2 linked regions of the Homo sapiens genome follow. The protein of the gene in region 1 interacts with the protein of each later gene in a pairwise test. Each region holds a gene or a part of one and is shown on either strand. Other genes may lie near its edges.

The links. The genes of interacting proteins can lie anywhere in the genome.
Region 2: the proteins of NUP133 (region 1) and NUP85 interact in binary tests that used the Homo sapiens proteins (3 or more experiments, as listed by UniProt).

Annotation. Positions count from the first base shown.
Region 1 is NC_000001.11:229,484,304-229,487,925, reverse strand, and holds part of NUP133 (nuclear pore complex protein Nup133), read left to right. Parts: intron 1-312; coding exon 313-460; intron 461-1,397; coding exon 1,398-1,555; intron 1,556-3,622. UniProt on the Homo sapiens protein: Involved in poly(A)+ RNA transport. Involved in nephrogenesis.
Region 2 is NC_000017.11:75,208,669-75,212,290, forward strand, and holds part of NUP85 (nuclear pore complex protein Nup85), read left to right. Parts: intron 1-1,154; coding exon 1,155-1,317; intron 1,318-3,323; coding exon 3,324-3,394; intron 3,395-3,622. UniProt on the Homo sapiens protein: Essential component of the nuclear pore complex (NPC) that seems to be required for NPC assembly and maintenance. As part of the NPC Nup107-160 subcomplex plays a role in RNA export and in tethering NUP96/Nup98 and NUP153 to the nucleus.

The DNA of each region.
Region 1 (3,622 bases):
GTTGCAGAGAGCCAAGATTGCACCACTACCCTCCAGCCTGGGCAACAGAGTGGGACTCTGTCTCAAAAAAAAAAAAAAAAAAAAAAATTAAAAAAGCAAATTATAAGCAAGTCAACAAAATATATGTCTAATTGATGTTTATAAACTTACTCTGTCATGTTTTGTTAATCATCTCATGGGTAGTGTTCAGATTTTTACAAAGAGAATTGGTGAAATATTTTTATGAAATAATGTACAAAAATGAATTTAAAAAATCATACAAATATTTTTGTTTTACTTCTTGTTAAATGTAATCTTAAATTTAACTTTCAGTCTGAAGACCTGATTTTGTGTCAGTTGACGGTCCCAAACTTTTCAAACCAGACTGCCTATCTGTATAACGAAAGTGCTGTCTATGTGTGCTCCACAGGAACTGGGAAATTTTCTCTTCCCCAGGAGAAAATTGTCTTTAATGCACAAGGTACAGTAGCAGTTTTAGAAAGCATGATTGGTGAGCTCATTAGTCATTCTGAGTGCTTTTTTTCTCTTTCCCTGAATGTCACTTCAAGCATGCTGCTTTCAAATGTTTCTGAGACATTTCATACCACAACTACAGCAGCTGAAGCCATAACCCTACTAAGAAACCAAAAGGGTACTAGAATTTCCAAACTATTATATTTACAGACAAAGATAGTAACATTTGTTCCAGGAGAAGATGCCAAGAAGCAAAAAACTATTGCCAAGAGAAGTAATTGCTTATTCCTAGTTAGTAAAAGTGACATATTCTGAGTTGATGCTTTAACTTTTCCACACCCCTAGATAAGAAGAGCTTCAGGTGCTGGACTTATGCAGGGGGGCTGGTCAGGATTGAAGAAGAACCAAGCAGATACTTAGCTGAAGGGGTTGGGCAGAGGACAGAGTGCAGGTAGGCAACAGCATGGAACCCAGGTTTTCTAGTCCCAGCACAAGAACCTTGACAGAGGGTGGGTAGGATGTTACTAAGGTGCCAGGTAGGCTTAGACCTTTTTTTTTTTTTTTTTTTTCCAGTCCCCATTGACTGATGTGGTAAGTTAAAGTCAGAATTAAGAGAACTCCACAGGATTGAAAAAGCTCTTCTTCTGAGTTTTGCAGAAGGAATAATTTTCTTTTTTGGCTTACTAGACTGACTGCTGTCTGGCAAGGCTAGTTTTTATTGTCCTTAAAGCTGAAAGACACAGAGCCTGCTTCTTCAGATAGCAACCGGTTCTTAGCATTTGATTCTGGGATGTAAAGGATGAGTTCGAAGTAGGACTAATGTTGTAAAGGAAAAAATGTGCTTAATATATCATCAAGATGATTTTCTGCTTAGGGTGGTAGCTTTTACATAGCATTTTGTTGTTATTGTTAGATGTATTTGACTCTGTTTTCCTTTCTTTTAGGAGATAGTGTTTTAGGTGCTGGTGCCTGTGGTGGTGTTCCTATCATTTTTTCTAGAAACAGTGGACTGGTGTCTATTACTTCAAGGGAAAATGTGTCTATATTGGCAGAAGACTTGGAAGGGTCTTTAGCATCTTCAGTTGCTGGACCAAACAGTGAGGTAATGTGATTCGATAAGAATTTGAAGTTTTTATGTTATTTATTTTTTAGAGATAGTGTCTCACGCTGTCACCCAGGCTAGAGTGCAGTGGCACAGTCGTAGTTCATTGCAGCCCCAAACTCCTGGCCTCAAGCAATCCTCCTGCCTCAGACTTCCCAGTAGGTGCCTGGCTAATTTTTTGTTTTTTGGTTTGGTTTGGTTTTTGAGACAGAGTCTCACTCTGTTGCCCAGGCTAGAGTGCAGTGGCATAATCATAGCTCACTGCAGCCTCACCTCAACCTCCCGGGATCAAGCAGTCCTCCCCTCTTAACTTCCTAAATAGCTGGGACTACAGACATGCGCCATCTCACCTGGCTAATTTTTTATTTTTTGTAGAGACAGGATCTCCTTATGTTGCCTAGGCTGGTCTCAAACTCCTGGGCTCAAGAATCCTCCCGCCTCGGCCTCCCAAAGTGCTGGGATTACTGGCGTGGAGCCACCATGCCCAGCCTAATTTTTAGTTTTATCAGATTATTTTATACAAATGGTCTCAAAACTGAGACAGTTTTCAAAGACGTAATGATGCAGACATTAGTTCTTTTTATCTTCCTCATCCCTTCTGTCCTCTTTGCCTGGAGCAACTACATTTAAGCCTTTTAGTGATTTATTCTGGTATTTTTCTCCATATATCTAAGTAATGTACATATATTCCTGTCTCCTGATGCATCTGTTGATTTTCTACTACAGAAAATGAGGTTTTGGGTTACCTTATACTCCTTCCTCTGCCTTTATCATTCTAACATAAATTTTTTTCATTGTAATGACAATGTAAATATTGTTTATGGTTTGCTGATCCCAAATACTGATTACATGTCCTTTATTATAGAACTTTGTGTGACTCTTGGAGTGTATAATGACCTCGTTTTGTATTTTCTCACTTTCCTTTCATATGTGACTTAATCTTTTTACACACTCCAGGAGTTCTGTAGAGTGCCCCTCAATGTAGTTTTTCCCAAAGTCAAGTCTCCAGAAACCTTCCATCTGCACAGCTGTCATCCCAGAACTTCCCTTTTCTATTGTCCTCAAATCCTCAGGACCTGTCCTCTGCACCATGCATAGGTGGCCTCATCTCCTGTCAGCGGGGCCATTTCCCATTCCTTCTGCTTTCTATCTTCCTTTGTTGTAGTTAGTATCACAGATATTTCCAAGGAGCTTGTATTTCTGTTTCTTTTTATTCTGGGATGATTTTTTGAGAGGAATAGCCAGGTAAAAATTACCAATTTTATTCTGTTGTCTTGAAACCTGAAATATCCTATCCATAAGATTTTTATCATTCTTTTACAGAAGACTAAAAATAATTAATACTGTTTGGGGTAATTTCCATTTGAATAGTGTATGAAATATATAGACTACCTCTGTAATTCAAATTAAAGTGATTAAGTGTAGTTTTAAAGGAAAGAAACAATTTTTAACTTTTTTTTCTTTTCACAAAAGGGATTAATACCTTGCATTTTGTATTTTGTAATTATACAAAATTATACAAAGTACAAAATACCTTGTATTTTGTAATTAATACGATTACAAAAAAGGATTAATATCTATTTTGTAATTGTATGGTTATTATAATACTGTTATACATTCTGAAGCAATTTTATAGTATTCCATTTCTTTAAAATTTTTCTAAACCGTTGTTTAAATTTGTAATCAACCATTATGCTTAGGTAGTATACACTGTGATGAGTCGTGTAAGAGCAAACCTATAAAAAGATTCTGTTAATTATGATGAAATGTCCAAATTATTTTACTTACAACATAATCCCTGAATTACCTGTACCTTTTCTGTATGACTTTGGTTGATCATTTGATGCTATTTATAGTGTTTCAATAAGTATATGAATAATTGGTATGGACCAAGCTTGTCCAACCCACAACCCATGGGCTGCATGCGGCCCAGGATGGCTTTGAATGCAGCCCAACACAAATTCGTAAACTTGCTTGAAACATAAATTTTTTTTTTTTTAACTCATCAGCTATCATTAATGTTAGTGTATTTTATGTGTGGGCCAAGACGATTCTTCCAGTGTGGCC
Region 2 (3,622 bases), on another chromosome or scaffold:
TTTTCTGTTTATTACCTCAGATTTTACTAGTTGTGGACTGAAACAGTTGAATTTATTTTGTACTATTTTAATTTTCTCTATTTTGTTTTCAAGATACAACAGGGTTTTGTTGTGTCACCTGGGCTGGAGTACAGTGTGATCATGGCTCACTGCAGCCTCTACCTCTTGGGCTCAAGTGATCCTCTGCCTCAGTCTTCCTAGTAGCTGAGACTACAGGTCACCATGCCACCACGCCCAGCTAATTTTTTTTTCTTTGTAGAGATGGGAGTCTCATTTTGTTGCCTAGGCTGGTCTCGCACTCCTGGCCTCAAGCGATCCTGTTGCATTTTGGCATTTTTATTTTTGAAATGTTAGCTATTTTAGATTTTCATTGATTTTTGAGATCTTGAAGATGTTGAATCCCGGAAAAAAATTAATAGTTTTCATGAAAAATTTTCTTCATATTTAAAATGTCAAGCTTTTTATCCCTTTTTCTTTGTCCAAAGTGACCAAATTCCTATCAGTAGCTCCCTTATTGTGAACCTTGCAGATGCTTGGCCGTCACTTTTGTGTCCACAGCATGGATTCAGCTGAATAATAGTTCTGTAGGCTGAGCTGAGCCGTAGCATCCAAGGCACAGATGGAGCTGGAGAGTGACATAGCTTGTCCTTGGCTTGATTTTCCTGAGTTCCATCAGCTATTGGATAGGATGTGAATCTTTTTCTTTTCCTGATACAGTGATACAGTCTCCTTCCAGTAGAAGGATAAAACTGGAATCTTGACATTTGATTTGCTTTCTTTTTTTTTTTTTTTTTTTGAGACGGAGTCTCGCTCTGTCCAGGCTGGAATGCAGTGGTGTGATCTCGGCTCACTGCCACCTCCGCCTCCCGGTTTGAAGCAATTCTCCTGCCTCAGTCTCCTGAGTAGCTGGGAATGAAGGCATGTGCCACCACGCCCAGCTAATTTTTGTATTTTTAGTAGAGACAGGGTTTTGCTATGTTGGCCAGCCTGGTCTCGAATTCCTGACCTCGTGATCTGCCTGCCTTGGCCTCCCAAAGTGCTGGGATTATAGGCAAGAGCCACCATGCCCGGCCACAGAAAATTTTTTTAGAGTAGATTCACTTTTGGAGATGATCATAATAGATGTTAAATTTTTTTTTTCTGTTTGGTTTCAGAAAAATCAGAGATGGTGCCAAGTTGCCCCTTTATCTATATCATCCGTAAGGATGTAGATGTTTACTCTCAAATCTTGAGAAAACTCTTCAATGAATCCCATGGAATCTTTCTGGGCCTCCAGAGAATTGACGAAGAGTTGACTGGAAAATCCAGAAAATCTCAGTAAGTTGGTTGCTGTTTGGTGTTGAAGCCCACACTACACTGTGGAAAGCCAAATGAAGTACATTGTTGTCTTTTTGTGTGTTTTATGGGTTGCGTAAAGAAATAAGAGACTCCTGGTTCTAGTTGAGGCATGAGTACTGGACAGTGTACATTAGCAGTGATGGGAAGACTTAGCGGGAATATGCAAATGCTATTGATGGGCTGGCTTGACAAGCTTTATTTATATTCATATTTTACTTAGCCTCTAAAGAAGAAAATTTAGGCCACACAAGCATGTGAGAGTCGTTGAATGAGGTCACATTGTTGGGAGATTTGAAAATTAATATAAACCTAACAGTTTTGTCTCTAAAAAATTATGGTTCAGACGTTATTTGACAACAGACCAGAAAACTCTCGTACTATTTATAGATTAGGATTTTCTTGAATTGTAGTTCATAACTTCATCATTATCAGAGTGGTACTTGTTAATTGTAGACTTTTGGGACCCACCTCAGATCATCAAAATCAAAATCTCCGTGGTTGGATCTTAAAATCTCCAGCACACTGAAGTTTAAGAACTCCTGTGTTAGATTTTTGTCAGCGTCCCTTCACATGGATGGCTAGGGAATGGGCAGTGTTGGTATGTTACTTCTTTGATAAGCTTTTCACAAATGAATCATTCTGGACAAGACTCAGGTCAGCTTCTGTGTGAGTGTGTGCAAGAGTGATTATTGGTTGTTTTTCTGTTTTTTTTCGAGGCAGAGTTTCGCTCTGTCACCCAGGCTGGAGTGCAGTGACGCGTTCTCCGCTCACTGTAAGCTCTGCCTCCTGGATTCACGCCATTCTCCTGCCTCAGCCTCCCGAGTAGCTGGGACTACAGGCGCCTGCCACCACATCCGGCTAATTTTTTGTATTTTTAGTAGAGACGGGGTTTCACCGTGTTAGCCAGGATGGTCTCGATCTCGTGACCTCGTGATCCACCTGCTTCGGCCTCCCAAAGTGCTGGGATTACAGACGTGAGCCACTGTGCCTGGCCCTGTTTTTTTTTTTTTTTTTGAGACAGAGTTTCACTCTGTCACCCAGGCTGGAGTGCAGTGGCGCAATCTTGGCCCACTGCAGCCTCTGCCTCCTGGGTTGAAGCCATTCTCCTGCCTCAGCCTCCTGAGTAGCTGGGATTACAGGTGCGTGCCACCACGCCTGGCTAATTTTTGCATTTTTAGTAGAGATGGGGTTTCATCATTTTGGCTGGGCTGGTCTTGAACTCCTGACCTCAAGTGATCTGCCCACCTCAGCGTCCCAAAGTGCTGGGATTATAGGAGTGAGCCACTGCACCTGGCCTGATTATTGGATTTAAGGGACTCTAGTGGAGAATATTGGTGAGTTTGAGAAATCTATTGTCACTTCTAGGAAAAAAACATGTCAAAAGTCCTGTAATTCCTTGCTGGCAGGGGACCCTGTCTTATTCTTTTTTTTTTTTTTTCAGATGGAGTCTCACTCTGTCGCCCAGGCTGGAGTGCAATGGCATGATCTTGGCTCACTGCAACCTCCGCCTGCCGGGTTCAAGAGATTCTCCTGCCTCAGCCTCCTGAGTAGCTGGGATTTTTGTATTTTTAGTAGAGACAGGGTTTCACCAGGTTGGCCAGGCTGGTCTCAAACACCTGACCTCAGGTGATCTGCCCACTTTCACCTCCCAAAGTGCTGGGATTACACGCCTGAGCCACCGGGCCTGGCCAGTAAATACATTTATGTATCTTTTTTATTTTTTTGAGACAAGGTCTGACCAGTAGATTTCATCTGCAACAATTAATGGCAGTATGGGTTTGTGGATATTAACTTTAGCCCATGGGTTGTTTTGTGGCGTTTTATTTTGTTGTCCAAGTTGTTCCAGCTTCAGAAGGTTAGGAGCTCCTTCACAACGGCTCTCCTCTTTCTTTCAGCAAATTTCTGCATTTATTTGAGTGTTTCCTTCCTTTGTGGCACTACAAGATGTTCCAGGCTCATCTTGTGTGTTATTTCATTTTTTGTAGATTGGTTCGAGTGAGTAAAAACTACCGATCAGTCATCAGAGCATGTATGGAGGAAATGCACCAGGTTGCAAGTAAGGACTGTGTGCGCGTGCGCGCGTGTGTGTGTGTGTGTGTGTGTGGGTATTTTGAGTATTTATCTATGCATAAATACTGTGAGGTAAAGTTTGATTGATATTCCAGTCCAAAACTTATTTTTCCATCTTTCATAATCCTTACTTTTTTGGTAATCATTTAGAGGTTTTTTTTTTTGTTGTTGTTTTTTTTTTTTTTTTTTTTTTTTTTTTTTTTTTTTTTTGAGA